Homo sapiens: one gene and its partner. The protein of the gene in region 1 interacts with the protein of each later gene in a pairwise test. Each region holds a gene or a part of one and is shown on either strand. Other genes may lie near its edges. The genes, in order: ECE2 and CD86.

Region 1 (3,819 bases):
CCTTCAGGTTGAGTGGGAAGTGGTTTCTGGGAGGAGGGTTAAGGGAATTGGCACAGAGCAGTGTTGAGTGTCTGTTTGCAGGTTTTCGCCCTGTTATTCAACAGATATTTATTGAGCACCTACTCTGTGGCAGACAGCTGCGCTTGGGTCTGAAATTACAGTGGTGAACAAAGCAAACCCAGCCCTGCTTTCATGGAGCCTCAGGGCCAGCAGGGGTGAGGCCACATGAGTTTGTACTGGACCCGAGCAGGGCCAGGGCCGCCATGGCCCTGGGGTCATCAGGCCTGGGCCACATTCTCACTCTGCCATCTGCTAGTTTGTGATGGAAGTCAAGCCGTGTCATCTTCCCAAGCTTCTGCCCTGGGGTGTGAAATGGGACTCATCTTCACTTCATGAAGTTGCTGTGTGGGGAGGAAAAGATACACTGTATGGAAAGCCTCTAATAGAGAGTCTGATGTATGTCTGCAGAAGTGGTCACTAAATATTTCTTCTCCATGCTTTTCTCTCCCTTGGAGACCAGCGGGTAGTGGAGAAAGCAGCTAGCTTGAGGCCTGGCAGGATGGGAGGTAATAGAGGCCTGAGGACACCATGGCCCCGATCCCCTGTGAGGTCCAGTCAGCTGTTCAGAGAAGGCACATGGTCACTGATGGGCTGGGACAACTAGCAGGGATCTAGGAAATGAGAAGGCAAAGCAGTATGGGAAGTAGGCCCATCTGCTGGACAGACATTTGCAGAGCACTTACTCTGTGTTCTAGTCCCTAGAGACAGCAGTGAGTAAGCTGCTGTAACTTGGAACAATGCTCTGCTGGAACTCACCTTCTCCTTGGAGAAATAGATGATAAACAAGTACAGAAGTAAGTAAACATGGCCGGGTGCAGTGGCTCATGCCTGTAATCCCAGCACTTTGAGAGGCCGAGGCGGGCAGATCACCTGAGGTCAGGAGTTCGAGACCAGCCTGGCTAACATGGTGAAACCCCGTCTCTACTAAAAATACAAAAAATTAGCCAGGCGTGGTGGCACACGCCTGTAGTCCCAGCTACTTGGGAGGCTGCAGCAGGAGAATCACTTGAACCCAGGAGGTGGAGGTTGCAGTGAGCCAAGATCGCGCCACTGCACTCCAGCCTGGGCAACAGAGTGAGACTCCATCTCAAAAAAAAAAAAAAAAAAAAAAAAAAAAAAGAAGAAGAAGAAGTAAGTAAACAATACTTAGCCAATGGAGGTAAGCAGTGTGTCAGAAATGAAACAGGTCATCCAGAAAGGCTTCCAGAAGGATCAAGCAGAAGAGATATTGGGCAGAGGTGGTGGTAAGAACAGATCTCAGCCTTGGGCAGGACTTGTTGCTGGGCTCTGAGGATCACCCGGGCCTTGACAGGTGCTCACTGCCTATCTGGATTACATGGAGGAACTGGGGATGCTGCTGGGTGGGCGGCCCACCTCCACGAGGGAGCAGATGCAGCAGGTGCTGGAGTTGGAGATACAGCTGGCCAACATCACAGTGCCCCAGGACCAGCGGCGCGACGAGGAGAAGATCTACCACAAGATGAGCATTTCGGAGCTGCAGGTGGGGCAGGCAGGGGGCTGGAGACAACTGAGAGGGGCCAGCCTTGGCATGGACCACCCAGCTTCCCTCCATGCCATCTCCCCAAGGCAGCCAGTCCTTTCCTCATTCCCTTGCTTTTCTGTGCTCCCCAGCTGCACTGCTGCTGTCCTGGGGAAAAAAATGGTGTCCATTTAGGCCACCTCTCACTGGGTCATCCTTTGGTCCCTTTCTTGCCTGGGGATGCATGGAGGGATTGTGTTAAAAATGTGTAACAGTTTGTATGAGATGTCCACAAAACAATCAGAATAGGCTGGGCATGGTGGCTGACATCTGTAATCCCAGCACTTTGGGAGGCCGAGGCGGGTGGATCGCCTGAGGTTGGGAGTTCAAGACCAGCCTAGCCAACATGGTGAAACCCCATCTCTACTAAAAATAAAAAATTAGCCGGGTGTGGTGGCACATGCCTGTAATCCCAGCTACTCGGGAGGCTGAGGTAGAAGAATCGCTTGAACCTGGGAGGCGGAGGTTGCAGTGAGCTGAGATTGCGCCATTGCACTCCAGCTTGGGTGACAAGAGCGAAACTCCATCTCAAAAAAAAAAAAAAAAAAAATAGAAGTGAAAGTTTCCACTGGGGGACCCGTACTGTGCCAGGCCATTAACACTTTAGATGTTGGATTATGGAAAAGTTGGGATGGAGTGTGGTTCTGGAGGAGAAGCCAGTACGTGCAGGGTGTTGGGAGTGGTATTTTATCAATTGTTAGGAAAATATTTGAATATCTAGGCCCCAGCTGAATGTCACATGTAGTGGTTATCCTTGTATAATAAGTGGTTGGGCTCCCAGATTGGAGGTGTCCAGGCCTGGAAAAGGGTATATTACAGGAAGGATACACCATGAAGCCAGTAGTTGTTGCTATGGCAATGGGAAGGGCTCCCAGGCTACAGCATACAGTGGGGGAGGGTTCTGCTGGAAGCGAGTCGGGCAGGCAAGGCCTGAGATTTTTTTCTTTCAGGCTCTGGCGCCCTCCATGGACTGGCTTGAGTTCCTGTCTTTCTTGCTGTCACCATTGGAGTTGAGTGACTCTGAGCCTGTGGTGGTGTATGGGATGGATTATTTGCAGCAGGTGTCAGAGCTCATCAACCGCACGGAACCAAGGTGTGGGGGTAGCCCAGGGTGAGGGTGGGTTCTGTGGAGGTCTCCAGCAAGGCTGGGCATAATGGACAGGCCCAGCCACACAGAACAACATTTGGTAATGCTATGGGCCTTCCAAACATTGAATCAGAATGTCTATGGGCTTTTCCTCTGCGCTAGGGTTGCAGGGTGCTCCCTGTGATCTCTGTCCCCCCACTGCTCTCCAACCTGACCTCTACAGGCAGGTGTGTGGCCCCGGGACCAAAGAGGAACCCCGGGACAGCTTCCACATATGCCTCTCGGGACTCCTGCAACTTGCATGTTCCTGGGGGCTGGTTTGAGGGGTGTGAAGGGCATCCCACCTGCCCTTTTCTTATTTTCTGGTCTGGTTGTCAGCATCCTGAACAATTACCTGATCTGGAACCTGGTGCAAAAGACAACCTCAAGCCTGGACCGACGCTTTGAGTCTGCACAAGAGAAGCTGCTGGAGACCCTCTATGGCACTAAGAAGGTGGGCTTTCTGATTTTGCCTCCACGTTCTGATCCAGTCTAACCGATGCTGCATACCTTCAGTGTGACAGGCACCATGTGCCTCATGGTGCACAGGTGCATAGTATGGAGCGCAGAATTTGGAAGCAAGCCGACTTGCGTTTCAATCCCAACTCATTCATTTTCTAGCCTGTAGGACCTTGGGCAGATCACCTAGCCTCTCTGACTCTCCATTTCCTGCTCTGTAAAGCAGGAATAACTTGGAGGGTTGTCAGGAAGAGTATTAGCTGAGTTAATGTAAGTGAAGCACCTGCACAGTACATGGTATGTATAGGCACTCGGCTTTGATGAGGAGGATGGAGAGGATATAATAAATAAGTGAGTATTTAGTTTCAAGATGCCCCATTAAGTGGGGGGAGTGGACATGTAAACAAATACATTATATTTTGTGGTGATAACTGCTCACACTGAGTGAAAGACTTTTCTGCTATAGGACAGAGGTGGGACAGCACATTTCACCTGGGGGGATGGTGGGGAAGGGCATCAGAGAAGCCTTCTCTGAGAGGTGCCATGTGATGGAAAAGTTCACCAAGAAAGCCGGGGAGAAGGGCATTCCAGGGACAAGGAACGGCATGTGCAAATTCCTAGAGGCCAAAAGGAG
Region 2 (3,819 bases), about 62 Mb from region 1:
ACCAAAGCCTGAGTGAGCTAGTAGTATTTTGGCAGGACCAGGAAAACTTGGTTCTGAATGAGGTATACTTAGGCAAAGAGAAATTTGACAGTGTTCATTCCAAGTATATGGGCCGCACAAGTTTTGATTCGGACAGTTGGACCCTGAGACTTCACAATCTTCAGATCAAGGACAAGGGCTTGTATCAATGTATCATCCATCACAAAAAGCCCACAGGAATGATTCGCATCCACCAGATGAATTCTGAACTGTCAGTGCTTGGTATGTGGTCAATGGTGTGTGTTCAGATTCTTAGCCTTCTCAGATGAGACTGCAAATGAGTTAGAAAAACACTGGAGGGGGACTTGAGGGGCCCAGGGGAAAAGGGGGGTCTATAGAGAGAAGGCAGAGGACAGCCACTTCTGGGAAGTGCATTTGAAGGGAGTGTAGAGTCTGGGAGTAGGGAACTGAAAGTCTTTTGTACTTTTTATAGTCTGCTTCTGAAGGATCAGTAAAAATCTGCTTTGGGGAAAAAATAGAGCTAATTGAACAAAGATAATATGGCTAATTACCTATAGTAAAAACCATGGATAATTTGGCCATCACAAAGTTTATATAACCATAAAGGCCTCAGATGTCTTACATTCATTTTTTCCTTGGGTCCAAGATTTTTCACCTACTAAATCTTTGCCTGGAGCTCCTAGCAAAGCGGACAGCTGACACATTTGGGTTTTCCCTTCAGCCTCCTCTAGGTTGCTTATGAGTTGTTTGCTGCCACAACCATGAGCCTGGTAGACAGAAGGGAAAAAAACCCAACAAACATAACCCACAAACTTACAAACCAGCTCCTCTGCTTCACGAGACCTTGGAAGGCCTAAATGCCACTACAGATTTTTTTAAAACTATCACACAGTAAAATTATTTTTTTTTGTTTTGATATACTGTTCTACTGATTGTATAGATCTTGTATAGATTTAGGTAACCGCCACAGGACATAGAGCATTTCTATCACCCTAAAAATTTCCCTCAGGCTGTCCCTTCATAGAGTCATACCCTGTCTGCACTCATAACCCTTGTTGGGCATCCTATAGTTTTGTCTTTTTGACAGTGTCACATAAGTGAAGCCACACAGTATGTAACCTTTTAAGCCTGGCTTCTTTCGTTTAGCGCGCCTTCGAGATTCACCCAAGTTGTTGCACATATCGAGCTTGTCCCTTTTTATTGCTGAGTAGCATTTTATTGTTTATCCATTCAACTCAGTAAAAGACATTGGGTTGTTTCTGGTTTGGGGCTCTTATGAATAAGGCTGCTGTAAACGTTCATGTACAGGTTTTTGTGTGAACATAAGTTCTCAGTTCTCTAGAGGAAATACCCAGGTGTGGTATTACTGGATCCAGGTTAATTTTTGATGAAACTTGAAAAGGCAGATCAACACCTATTCTAAAACCATAGAGTAAAACAGAAGCAAAAGTAAAAATAGAATGGAGAGCTGCTCCCTTTGAACCCTGTGTGATTTAAACTAGGCTGCAGGGCTTTAGGAATAGTTAACCAAGTGCTAAATCCGTGTTTTCAAAATGTGGTCAGGTACCATTGGAAATGTTTTAGGTGGGACACAGATAAGCATTTTGAAAAGCCATGTTGTATTTGTTTTAATGTATATTAGAAAAACTCTAACTTACGCAACATGTGATTTCACAGATCTTGTTAATGAAGCTAAACACGGTCTGGCAATTCACCTTCTACAGGCCACATAGACTCCAAGAAGACTGCTCAAATAGTACACTGATATAGCAAAACTTATAAAGATGACATGCAAATGACAGACCTTTTAGTAAGAATACACTAAATTATAAATTAGTTTGTAGAACCTGCAAACTACCTAGTAACTATAAAAGAACAAGGGATTTTTTCTGACAGAAGGCACATGACACAGGTCTAGGGACTCCATGCCAGTGATCCTGAACAGCCAGAAAAGTGAGAATGGCAAAGGCAAGAGAAACACTGTGTTTATTAAGATCATGTATTTTTCCCTAAAATAGCTGGATTTGGCCTTCTTCTTAGAGTATGTTATGAAGACACTTTGATGCTCATGCCAAAAATCAGTGTTCTGAATTTCGAATTCCAAAATATCCACCCACTCACTTACCACAATCCTGCTTGGGTTTCTGAAAGATATGACGCAGGGCATCTCAGCACCATGAACTCTGTCAGTTCCTGGTGAGACTCCAGCTCAATTCCTTCCTGCTCTCTTAGTCTGGGGAGCTGGAATGTGCCCCATGGGACACCTGGGCCCTAGAGTCAGACCACTTCTCCTTCCAAAGACTCTACTCCCTGGAAACAGTGGCTTCATTGTAAATCTTTGGTGACTCAATTACAGCCCTCCTGTCACTTAGAGAGCACCCCTTTGATTTGGATAAGCAGGAAGTAAGCATGGCTGCAAACTCTATTGTTGAAAAATAAACATGAAGTCATTATGTGGCACTCACCTTGGGCTGAGGGTCACATTTTAGACACCCTGAGGCTCCCAGGTGTGCCCCAATGAGCCCCAGATCAAGTACCCAGTTATTTGCTATTCCCTCCTAGATACATCTAAACTTAGATTGATTTTTTTTTATCTCTCTTCTGCTTTCAGCTAACTTCAGTCAACCTGAAATAGTACCAATTTCTAATATAACAGAAAATGTGTACATAAATTTGACCTGCTCATCTATACACGGTTACCCAGAACCTAAGAAGATGAGTGTTTTGCTAAGAACCAAGAATTCAACTATCGAGTATGATGGTGTTATGCAGAAATCTCAAGATAATGTCACAGAACTGTACGACGTTTCCATCAGCTTGTCTGTTTCATTCCCTGATGTTACGAGCAATATGACCATCTTCTGTATTCTGGAAACTGACAAGACGCGGCTTTTATCTTCACCTTTCTCTATAGGTAAAGCTGTTTTCCAAGACTATTTCTTTCAGCAGGTATTATACACAAATGCTTAAGGCAGATCATCCAATGTCCCCGACTTGCTAGGAAACCTCCAACTGGGCCATTTTATGACGCTGTTAGGAAGGACCCAGATGGAGGTCTCCTGCTTCTCCTGAGTGATGCAGGGTCCAGGAGGCTACGAGCCTATGTTGCACTTGAAGAAATATGCTTTTAGCCCTGAAACTGACTCAGTCTCTTGGTTTACCTTTGGATGGAGGATTCTGAAGTTTTGATTTAAAAATACAGGATTCCTCCAGGCTAGAATTCTTTCTTTGATTACAACACATACATGCGCTTGCACACACACACACACACACACACACACACACCATGCATACATGCAGACATACAAATGATATTTATTGTGAGTATAGAACCATTTGGGACATTATTGGTCACAGGAGTGAAAACAAAAAGATATGACACCCCCTCTGCCCTTGAGGACCTTCCAATAGAATCAGAACCCTGTAATGTGCACACATGAAAAACTGGATTTTTAAAAGGTTGAATTGGAATCTAAATTTTATTCCATGGAAATATCTGACTAAATTTAAAATAAAAGTGACTGGTAATGAGATTTATGGGCATTCAGAGGTAGGCAAGATCCCTGAGGGTCAGGGAATGGTTCCTAAAGGAAGGGGTACCTTGTAACATGTAAAATAAATTATTGGGGTTAATAAATGTGGTGAGGAGGGGAGGGCATTCTGGATGACAGGTTCCCAAAACTGTGGTGACTTCCGTAGCTGAAAAAATTTGAGACAGTATCTGGGCTAAGCAGGTGAGAGGACCACAGTGGATCAGCTGTATCTGACGTAAGTGCAGGAGGTATGTCAAAGAAAGCCTTGGAGGCAGAAATGCTTGTG

The links.
Region 2: the proteins of ECE2 (region 1) and CD86 interact in a two-hybrid assay, tested with the Homo sapiens proteins (one large-scale study listed by BioGRID).

What each region holds. Positions count from the first base shown.
Region 1 is NC_000003.12:184,282,413-184,286,231, forward strand, and holds part of ECE2 (endothelin-converting enzyme 2), read left to right. Parts: intron 1-1,372; coding exon 1,373-1,561; intron 1,562-2,550; coding exon 2,551-2,693; intron 2,694-3,065; coding exon 3,066-3,180; intron 3,181-3,819. Other genes in the region: EEF1AKMT4-ECE2 readthrough transcript protein, read left to right, coding at 1,373-1,561, 2,551-2,693, 3,066-3,180. UniProt on the Homo sapiens protein: Converts big endothelin-1 to endothelin-1. Also involved in the processing of various neuroendocrine peptides, including neurotensin, angiotensin I, substance P, proenkephalin-derived peptides, and prodynorphin-derived peptides.
Region 2 is NC_000003.12:122,103,587-122,107,405, forward strand, and holds part of CD86 (T-lymphocyte activation antigen CD86 isoform 1 precursor), read left to right. Parts: coding exon 1-261; intron 262-2,611; coding exon 2,612-2,914; intron 2,915-3,819. UniProt on the Homo sapiens protein: Receptor involved in the costimulatory signal essential for T-lymphocyte proliferation and interleukin-2 production, by binding CD28 or CTLA-4.